Linked DNA regions of Homo sapiens. The protein of the gene in region 3 purifies or fractionates together with the protein of the main gene of each other region. This does not show direct contact. Each region holds a gene or a part of one and is shown on either strand. Other genes may lie near its edges.

Region 1 (3,833 bases), on a different chromosome or scaffold from region 3:
CCCAGGCCTGTAATCCCAGCTGCTCGGGAGGCTGAGGCAGGGGAATTGCTTGAACCCGGGAGGTGGAGGTTGCAGTGAACGGAGATCGCGCCACTGCACTCCAGCCTGGGCGACAGAGGGAGACTTCGTCTCAAAAAAAAAAAAAAAAAAAAAAGGCAGATACAAAAAGCCACGTGCTGTATGATTCTATTTATACGAAATGTCCAGAAACAGGCAAGTTTATCCACACAAAAAGTAGTTGCCAGGGGGATGAAGGGAGAGGAGAATTGAGAGTGACAATTAAGAGGTAAGTGGTTGCTTTTTGGAGTGATGAAAACATTATGGAATTAGATAGTGGTGATTTTTGTGCAACTTTGTGAATATACTGAAATCCACTGAATTGCACTCTTTTAACTGGTGTGTGTATATATATATGTGTGTGTGTGTGTGTGTGTATATATATATAAATTTTTTTTTTTTTTGAGAAGGAGTCTCGCTCTGTCGCCCAGGCTGGAGTGCAGTGGCGCAATCTCAGCTCTCTGCAAGCTCTGCCTCCCGGGTTCACGCCTTTTCCTGCCTCAGCCTCCTGGGTAGGTGGGACTACAGGCACCCACCACCTCGCCTGGCTAAGTTTTTTTGCTTTGTATTTTTATTAGAGACGGGGTTTCACCATGTTAGCCAGGATGATCTCGATCTCCTGACGTCGTGATCTGCCTGCCTTGGCCTCCCAGTGCTGGGATTACAGGCTTGAGCCACCGCGCCCGGCCGGTCAATATATATATTTTTTGAGACAGGGTCTGTCTCTGTCGCCCAGGCTGGAGTGCAGTGATGCAGCCGTAGGTCATTGCAGCCTTGAACTCCTGGGCTCAAGCGAGCCTCCCACCTCAGCCTACCAAGTAGGTGGGACTACAGGTACACACCACCATGCCCAGCTAATTTTTTTCTTTTTCTTTTTCAGTAGAGACAAGGTCTCCCTATGTTGTCCAGGCCGGTCTTAAACTCCTGGGTTCAAGCAATCCTCCTGCTTTGGCCTCCCAAAGTGCTGGGATTACAGGCACATGAGCCACTGTGCCTGGCCTAAAACAGTACCTTTTAAGTTAAGTGAATTATATTTCAATTAAAAAAGTATATCCACACTCTCAAATAAATTAAAACTTAAAAACAAAATACATAACAATCGCCAGTAGAAGCACTGCAGGTAAAGTTCAAGCCCCTCCCCACTGCATTCTCCTCACCCTCAGCTTTCATTACAACCACTTAACAGGTTCCCCACAGCTCACTCCTCAGACAAGCAGGATAAACAGCCCTTGCCTAGAACTAGTTCTACTTCTCCATGTCTGCAGTCATCAAAGTTCACATGCCTGAACATCTCACAGTTACTTTCCAATGGGCTCATATTTCACCTCTACCTTCTCCGCTTACCGAAATGCTCTTCATCCTTCAAGAATCAAATTCCGACTCATCCATGAAGTGAACTCCAGCCTTCGAAAGCTTTTTTTCCCCCTAACTACTACAGAACAGATGATATGGAAACAATCTGCATCAGGCCAGCCGCGGTGGCTCATACCTGTAGTCCCAGCACTTTGGGAGGCCAAGGCGGGTGGATCATTTGAGGTCAAGCGTTCGAGACCAGCCTGGCCAACATGGAGAAACCCTGTCTCTACTAAAAATACAAAAATGAGCCGGGTGTGGTGGTGCGTGCCTGTAACCCCAGCTACTTGGGAGGCTGTGGCTGGAGAATCACTTGAACACGGGAGGCAGAGGTTGCAGTGAGCCAAGATCGTGCCATTGCACTCCAGCCTGGGCGACATAGTGAGACACTGTCTCAAAAAATTAAAAAAATTACCTTAAAAATCTCAAACCCCTTAAACATCCCACATGCCTCATTCTTCCAGAAAAAGAAAGTTGAACCGGTGGGGTAAAGGAATGGTAAAAGTGGCCGGGTGCTGTAGCTCACGCCTATAATCTCAGCACTTTGGGAGGCTGAGGCGGGTGGATCACCTGAGGTCAGGAGTTCGAGACCAGACTGACCAATATGGTGAAACCCCGTCTCTACTAAAAATACAAAAAAATTAGACGTGGTGGTGTGCGCCTGTAGTCACAGCTACTCGGAGGCTGAGACAGGAGAATTTCTTGAACCCGGGAGGCGGAGGTTGCAGTGAGCCAAGATTGCGCCACTGCACTCCATCCTGGGCGACAGCAAGACTCTCTCTCTCAAAAAAAAAAAAGGGAATGGTAAAAGTTACCTAAAGTCAGCTTTCCAGGTGCATTAATGGAGAGAAGCAGTGGCATGGATAATTTAGAGGAGCTGTTTTATCCTACAGTCTTCTGTGTGCTAGTTTGCAAGGTTGTAGACAGCGTACTGGCCAGAATGGATTCTGGGGGCTGACCATATTAGCAAATTGTGTAGTCTTAAAGCCGTTTTATTTATAGGAAAGTTGGTGTTTTTGACCTGGAAATATATAAGACTGAAATAATGAGACAGTGTTTTTGAGCTCAGCTGTCTTTTGCTCAGCTCTTTACATGTTATTAGAAATGTCCCACATCACGTCAGTCCTAATGACCAGATCGCTCAGCTTCTCGCCATTCAGGTCCAGTATAAAATTTTGATTATTTTTACTTAAAAGATCTGTTTTTGTTTTGGATGCCAGATGAGTTAAAGAAAAAGTGATATGTTAGCCAGCAAATGGGAACATATTCAAAAGGTTTTGTGTGTCAGACCTGACTTAGAATAATTAGCATAGCATTTTTTTGTCGGTACTAACTCTGGTGAAAATCATAACAGAATCTTCTGTCTCCTAGAGTTCCCTTGGTCTGAGTCTGTCCTTTAATAGAGGTTGGTGCAAAAGTAGTTGTGGTTTTTACTTTTGCACCAACCTAATAGATAACTTCTCGTTCCTTCTGTTACAAAATGAGCATAACTTTGGAAAGACGATCAGGTGTATTTTGTTTTTTCAGTTCTTTGTATCAAAGGGAGGTGACAGTGTTAAGAGTAATGTTTAAATAGGTGGAGAAATTTTAATTGACATTGAAATATAGATTTTGATTTTTTTGATAGGGCTTCTGCATGCCTAATGATTTTCTCAGTATAATATTAAAATGGATATATATTCTTAGAGTGTACATTGAACAGTCTTTGGGAAGAGTGGATGGTGTTGGGGTGAAGCTGCTGCCGTATTTAGTTTTCAAAATAGAATTCAGGAAATGGATCATATGTATTTGGATTACTGAAAGTCAGTTTCATTAAAATGTTCCTAAAGGGGCCAGGCGTAGTGGCTCACGCTTGTAATCCCAGCACTTTGGGAGGCTGAGGCAGGCGGATCACCTGAGGTCAGGAGTTCAACCCTCCCTCTACTAAAAAAATAAAATAAAATAAAATAAAAAATAGCCAGATGTGGTGGTGGGTGCCTGCAGTCCCAGCTACTTAGGAGGCTGAGGCAGGAGAATCACTCCAACCTGGGAGGCAGAGGTTGCAGTGAGCCGATATTGCGCCACTGCAATCCAGCTTGGGCAACAGAGTGAGACTCCATCTCAAAAAAAAAAAAAAAGCTTCCTAAAGCTTCAACAGTAGACTTGTGTAGTACAAATCCCCTTCGTTCTAGATCTCCCCACTTTGGTTTTAGGATTTAGCCTTTGTTCGTTCTGCTTGTTTCTTTTTCTGTTGCTGGCAATAAAACTTTCCAGTTATGATGCATTATGCTTTTAATACCCTGCTGGATTGGATTTGTATGTGTATTTGCAGTGAAAGCTTGTTTGCCATTTTCCTCTGATGGTGACTTTTGACCACATTTCCATAGGTTTGGAGATACTGTGTTCTCGTTAGTTTTTAAATAGTCTGTTACTTTAGTTTTAAT
Region 2 (3,600 bases), on a different chromosome or scaffold from region 3:
TTCATTCTCATAAGGAATTTAGAGAAGTTAAACAAAATAGTTGAGCGTGGCTAGAGTACATACTAGAGAGTAGTTAGAGGCTGCTTGCACCGCCTTATAAATTTTGCCAAGGAGCTCACACTATCCTGAGAGGTTGGTGGGGGGAACCATTGAATGATTTTAAGCAGAAAGTAACATGACATTTACGTTTTGGAAAGAATCATTCTAGTTACTTAAACTATTGGGGGTGATGATCTTTAGGAAAGCAGTGGGTTTGGAACTGACCAGCTTTTCCCCTCATCATTTTGGCCATAGTATGGAAACTTAATTAGAGGAAGGCAAGACTAGAGTCAAGGAAACTGGTTAGAGATTCTTTTGATAATTTAGACAAAAGAGGAGGGTGTCCTGAACTTGACTGGTGGCCATGGAAATAAAGATTGGCAAGTTTGAGAAGCCTTTAGGCATTAGAATTGACTTGGTTGGACTGGAGGAAGTAATAATGAGACCATAAACTTGGTGGTGTTGGTGGGTGCACATGAAAGTACTGATGTGTGCTGTGACTGGTAAACCAAATTAAAAACAAAGTTATACCTTTGATCCTCTAGAGTAGCCAGTAACCATACTATATTAAATGATTTTCCCTCTTGATCTTTCAGTGACCCTGTTTCTCCAATAGAGATTTTCCTAACTGGCAGCTCTGGCCTTTCAGAAAAACTTGCTTCACTTCTCCTAATTTTGCTGCAAAACCCAGCCATGGCTTGTTTGCCATTCTGTCAGCCACTATAGTTGACCAGATGATCAAAGAAACTAGAAATGATAGATCCTTTGATTTCCAAAAGTGCACAGAACACACTGAGGACTGTCACAATGCCACCACGCTGAGAAAGAGCTAGATCTGCCTTTTTGACATGATGGGCATTGGTTATTAGGAGTCTTTAGGCTTTGGGAGAGCGATTCAATAAGAGATAAAAGTTTAGACAGAATTTCATTGTTGCCTGGGTTTATGTTAGCCAAGAGAACCTGCTAAAACAATTCTGTATCAATTACCAACAGTGAAGCACTACAGGAGGCAGCTGTGGCATTGCTTCCTTAACCAGTATTTGGATAGTTTTAACTATGGTATTAACTCTCTGTTTCTCAACCATAGTCATCATACAGTGGTCTGAGGTACCTTTCAAGTAGATGATTACAAATAACAAAACACCCAAGTTGGAGATGATTTACTTTTAAAAATTTTTAAATAAATTTAAGCTGATTGAAGATTATCCCTTCCAATGTTCCTCTCACTCACCCATATCTTGATATTGAGTGGATGGAATTTTACCTAGTTTGCTAGAAATTGTCTCTAACACATAACCATTTGTGTGTTATATTACTGTCCTGTGCATGGAGAGAGAAGAGAAGATGTCTGTGTGCACATCATGTGTTTCCTTGTGGAAAATAAAAAAGATCGTGGAACAGTATAACTTAATACATTTTCTCTCTGAATCTGTTATAGTGTGATAACTGTGGCATAGAACCCATCCAGGGTGTTCGGTGGCATTGCCAGGATTGTCCTCCAGAAATGTCTTTGGATTTCTGTGATTCTTGTTCAGACTGGTAAGTGTTTTCTTCATTGTCAGTCTTCAACTTAGACAAGAAAAGAGCTTCTCAGCCATTAGTGAATTTGATTTCCAAACATAGAAAATATTAATACCCACACTTAGTGAATTAAATTTTGTTGTTCTAGGCAATTAATTTTTTTCTGTAATCATACCACATGTCAAGTAACTTTCCGTTGGAGATTTTGATAGATTAATGGATTTAAACAGGGAGAGCTGTGAGGAAGCTTTGTAATACACAGACTAAAATGCATCCACTACCATGTAATGATGTGTGTCTTTTTTTCTTTACAGTCTACATGAAACAGATATTCACAAGGAAGATCACCAATTAGAACCTATTTATAGGTCAGAGACATTCTTAGACAGAGACTACTGTGTGTCTCAGGGCACCAGTTACAATTACCTTGACCCAAACTACTTTCCAGCAAACAGATGACATGGAAGAGAACATCATTTACTAGTCCTCTTCAACACATAGCAATGGTATCATTGTTAATTATGTGCACAGTTTGGAAAGATTCTCTGCTTTCCCAGAAATGACACTCACAGCATGAGAGCTTCCTGAGTGTTCTCGTCAAGTACAGCTCTGCACCGTTGTGGCTCTAGATCACTGTTCAGCAGCTGAACATTCCTGGTGAGCAAAGGTTTCCCTGGTGAATTTTTCACCACTGCGTTTTAGGTGGTGATCTTAAATGGGTGAGATGGAACGAGAGCACACATTAAAGAGAGAGTAAATTCCAAAGGTTTCAAAGAACTTGGTCATAAATATGATAATGAGAAGACAAAGTATTTATATTAAAACAGTTTAGTAGCCTTCAGTTTTGTGAAAATAGTTTTCAGCACAGAAACTGACTTCTTTAGACAAAGTTTTAACCAATGATGGTGTTTGCTTCTAGGATATACACTTTAAAAGAACTCACTGTCCCAGTGGTGGTCATTGATGGCCTTTAGTAAATTGGAGCTGCTTAATCATATTGATATCTAATTTCTTTTAACCACAATGAATTGTCCTTAATTACCAACAGTGAAGCACTACAGGAGGCAACTGTGGCATTGCTTCCTTAACCAGCTCATGGTGTGTGAATGTTATAAAATTGTCACTCAGATATATTTTTTAAATGTAATGTTATATAAGATGATCATGTGATGTGTACAAACTATGGTGAAAAGTGCCAGTGGTAGTAACTGTGTAAAGTTTCTAATTCACAACATTAATTCCTTTAAAATACACAGCCTTCTGCCTCTGTATTTGGAGTTGTCAGTACAACTCATCAAAGAAAACTGCCTAATATAAAAATCATATATATGGTAATAATTTCCCTCTTTTGTAGTCTGCACAAGATCCATAAAAGATTGTATTTTTATTACTATTTAAACAAGTGATTAAATTTAGTCTGCACAGTGAGCAAGGGTTCACATGCATTCTTTTATACTGCTGGATTTTGTTGTGCATCATTTAAAACATTTTGTATGTTTCTTCTTATCTGTGTATACAGTATGTTCTTGAATGATGTTCATTTGTCAGGAGAACTGTGAGAAATAAACTATGTGGATACTGTCTGTTTATATTATAGAATGCTTGTTGTGACTTCCTTTTGGTTAGATTTTGGATTTTTTTTTTTACCAGTGTTAAAACCAGAAATTGGTATTTTTTAAAATGGTTTGCTTCACATATTTAAGAGTTTTCTTTCTGTCATTTATGAAGAATAAGGAATGTATTATGGAAAAGAGGGTGATCTTAAGCAACCCTGTAAAAAATGGTAAAGATTTTTACTCAGTGTGTGCTGAAACACTAAATTAAACTAGCTTACAAAAAGGAAACACGGACCATGGTTAAAGAAAAAGGCAATTATTAATGCTCAGGTGTGAAAACTAAAGTTGAAAATTTTTTTTCTAGTTGTGTCTCATGAAGATAAGCCCCCATGTATTTAAACAGATGGCTTTTGAAAAATCACCTTGTTTCCTGGAAATTACTATTAACTATAGGAAAAGATAGTATAAATATTCTAAGATTGAT
Region 3 (3,811 bases):
TTTTCTCTTCAGCATACATATATAAAAGACTTGTCAGATGTTTAATTTGGGGAGGTTGATAATGAAACATATCAACAGAGTATAGTAGTTATAGTAGTGTTTGTGGGTAAATAATTTCCTGGGGTCAGACATATATAAACATATTTGCTTCAAAATGATAAAGGCATGAAATCAGTCTTAAAAATTGAAATGGGGGTGATGGGGGAGAAAAAGAAGAACAAATTTGAAGTGCCCTTTCAAATCTGCTGGATACAAGTATTGAAGTTTTAAGTCATCTTATTCTGTCTGAAAGTGTATTTTTCATTCTACAATAGACCCAATCAACAAGACGTATAACTTGAGTTGCATGATGTTCAGTTTATGTAATCTACTGTTGGGATGGTAAGAATTGATGTAGGCTGTGGTGTAAGAATGAATTAAAATATAGTTTCACTGGCTTTTCTCTACATATCCACTATCACAATGGCTAGGTTTCCTGTTGCTCACTATTGGATTCTGGAGAAAAATTTAATGAAAGATGATATCAGAGGAAGAATAAGTGGAGGTAGAGAAGAAAGGAATGATAGAGGAGGGGAAAAAAACAAAACATATTTTTGTGTTATCCAAAGGAGCTTTTTCCTTATTCTGTCAAGCATTGAGATCTTCTTCAGCTTTCAATGTAGTTGCTAAATACAAATAATGCTACTAGGTAGTGACTAAATATAGCAAACACTTCATCAGATATTAGAATTAGGTCACACTATTGAGGTTATAATCTGAAGGTTGTGTTACATAGAAACCACTTTAGATTATTATCAACTTGGACTAGGCTTTATTTTATAATAGCATAGTAAGTAATATCTATTGTGTCATTTCTTCAACCATTTTATTCTAAGATCCATGAAGCTTCTTGAGGCCAAATAAAATAATAAGTTTAGACAAGAAGTAGATTGTGACTTTTTTCCCTTAGAGATACTATTTACTATCTCCTATCCTGATAGGTGGAAGGTTTACTGAATTGGAAATTGGTTGACTATTAGTTTTTAACTAAAATGTGCAATAACACATTGCAGTTTCCTCAAACTAGTTTCCTATGATCATTAAACTCATTCTCAGGGTTAAGAAAGGAATGTAAATTTCTGCCTCAATTTGTACTTCATCAATAAGTTTTTGAAGAGTGCAGATTTTTAGTCAGGTCTTAAAAATAAACTCACAAATCTGGATGCATTTCTAAATTCTGCAAATGTTTCCTGGGGTGACTTAACAAGGAATAATCCCACAATATACCTAGCTACCTAATACATGGAGCTGGGGCTCAACCCACTGTTTTTAAGGATTTGCGCTTACTTGTGGCTGAGGAAAAATAAGTAGTTCGAGGAAGTAGTTTTTAAATGTGAGCTTATAGATAGAAACAGAATATCAACTTAATTATGAAATTGTTAGAACCTGTTCTCTTGTATCTGAATCTGATTGCAATTACTATTGTACTGATAGACTCCAGCCATTGCAAGTCTCAGATATCTTAGCTGTGTAGTGATTCTTGAAATTCTTTTTAAGAAAAATTGAGTAGAAAGAAATAAACCCTTTGTAAATGAGGCTTGGCTTTTGTGAAAGATCATCCGCAGGCTATGTTAAAAGGATTTTAGCTCACTAAAAGTGTAATAATGGAAATGTGGAAAATATCGTAGGTAAAGGAAACTACCTCATGCTCTGAAGGTTTTGTAGAAGCACAATTAAACATCTAAAATGGCTTTGTTACACCAGAGCCATCTGGTGTGAAGAACTCTATATTTGTATGTTGAGAGGGCATGGAATAATTGTATTTTGCTGGCAATAGACACATTCTTTATTATTTGCAGATTCCTCATCAAATCTGTAATTATGCACAGTTTCTGTTATCAATAAAACAAAAGAATCCTGTTTGTGTGGTTTCATGAAATCAGCATTGTTGAATGCATGAAGTAATAATGCTAAATTAACATTTTTATGATGTCTCAAGGTTTCTGGTCAAGGGAAGTAAATGTAGGATAGTATTTTTACACCAAAATGACACAGAGAGAATTGAGCACACCAGAAAGACCAGAAACCACACCACTGGATAGAGATTCAATATGTTTCTTTTTCAAACATTTGGACAAGAAAAAAATGGGCATTTAAAAATTCTTCCTTCCCCTGGTTATGGATTTATCTGTAGTAAAACTTAGCTTTGTCGTTTGAGATTTGCACAGAATGGGGGGAGTAGATTACCTCTTCCCATTCATTGTCATAATGGATCTACATCACTGATAAACACCATACTTCTATATGTGGTTAACTAGCTTTAGAATAAAAGACACTTTAAAAAGTAAAAGGCCTAGAGATCTTCAATGAAGTGTCCCTTTTAGCCAAACCAGGCCTTGCAGAAATTGTCCTCAAAAGCACCAAGGGAGAACAAAGCCAAGTGCAGAATTACCCAAGGGTCACACATTTTGTATTCATTTTCTTATAATTTGCCCAAATGATTTGAAGTACAGCAAAACCTGAAGTTTTGCAAAGAGTTACTGTAAACTGAACTTAAAAATGTCAGAGTGCTCGGTGACCCACTTCTCCAGACCCTGTCAACCTGTGAAAATATTGGCCTTTATTCAGATCTCTCAAGAAGTTACGCGCAGAGTTTGGAAGGTCTAGGCAAAGGTTATTAGTCAAGTGTTCTTACAGTGTCAACGCTCAATTCCCACAAGCGTGAGAAAGAGAGACCTGTCATTCCTGAGGGTGATGACATACATTTACTGGAGCTTATATAATTTATCAGATAAGACAGCAGTTTCCTTCAGGGTAGAAAGTGTGTTTTCTACATTGATTTAGTACAAAACAAAAAGAAAAGGGGATATTTCAAATTTTATAATTATTTTTCTGCTAAGCTGATTCAGTGTGATTTAAGCATATTTTTCAAATCATGAATCTGATTCCATATACATATGTGCCTTATATTGTGATAATTTATTTTTAAGTGAAATATGCTATCATAGCCTGACTTTATGTATAGTGGTGACAACTTGCAGGATCGCATTTCTGTAACCAAACGGCCGACAGCTGAGGTGTAGATGCTTCCTATGGTCTGTAGAATAATCACTGGGCTTGTTCTCTAGCTATGTCTGTATGCAATCGCGACAGTGTTGATCAAAACCCATGATCATTCTCTCCAAAGGTCTTTGTCACTAAGCCACTAGGGATTCTGAAAAGTTCGTGAGCTGAAACAAATAAATTGAGTTGGAAGATTCATGTTGACTGTTTGTATCCCAAATGCAATATACCAGTTTTTGAAGCTGAACTGATTACATTAAAAAGGGATCAAGCTGCATTTGTTTTAAAGATAGTTACATGACCAAAAGTTGCTCAACATCATTGGTCATTAGATATGTGCAATCAAACCTGCAATGAGATATCACTTCACCCCAGTTAAAATGGCCTATATCCAAAATGCAGGTAATAACAAATGCTGGTAAGGGTGCAGAGAAAAGGGAACCCTCTTACACTGTTGTTGGGAATGTAAATTCATACAACCACTATGGAGAACAGTTTGGAGGTTCCTCAGAAAACTAAACATTGAGGTATGATATGATCCAGCAATCCCACTGCTAGGTATACATCCAAAAGAAAGGAACTCATTACATCAAAAAGATATCTGCAATTCTATTTTTGTTACAGCACTGTTTACAATAGCTATGATTTGGAAGCAACCTAAGTGTCCATCAATAGATGAATGGATGAAGAAAATGTGGTACATGTACACAATGGAGTACTATTCAGCCAGGAAAAAGAATGAGATCCTGTCATTTGCAACAACTTGAAT

The links.
Region 1: the proteins of BCAT1 (region 3) and YEATS2 purify together in Homo sapiens (affinity purification with mass spectrometry; 3 studies listed by BioGRID and IntAct, with this or other methods). This does not show direct contact.
Region 2: the proteins of BCAT1 (region 3) and ZZZ3 purify together in Homo sapiens (affinity purification with mass spectrometry; 2 studies listed by BioGRID and IntAct, with this or other methods). This does not show direct contact.

Annotation. Positions count from the first base shown.
Region 1 is NC_000003.12:183,700,639-183,704,471, forward strand, and holds part of YEATS2 (YEATS domain-containing protein 2), read left to right. Parts: intron 1-3,833. UniProt on the Homo sapiens protein: Chromatin reader component of the ATAC complex, a complex with histone acetyltransferase activity on histones H3 and H4. YEATS2 specifically recognizes and binds histone H3 crotonylated at 'Lys-27' (H3K27cr).
Region 2 is NC_000001.11:77,564,059-77,567,658, reverse strand, and holds part of ZZZ3 (ZZ-type zinc finger-containing protein 3), read left to right. Parts: intron 1-1,477; coding exon 1,478-1,578; intron 1,579-1,874; coding exon 1,875-2,019; 3' UTR 2,020-3,600.
Region 3 is NC_000012.12:24,809,451-24,813,261, reverse strand, and holds the end of BCAT1 (branched-chain-amino-acid aminotransferase, cytosolic), read left to right. Parts: 3' UTR 1-3,238; downstream 3,239-3,811.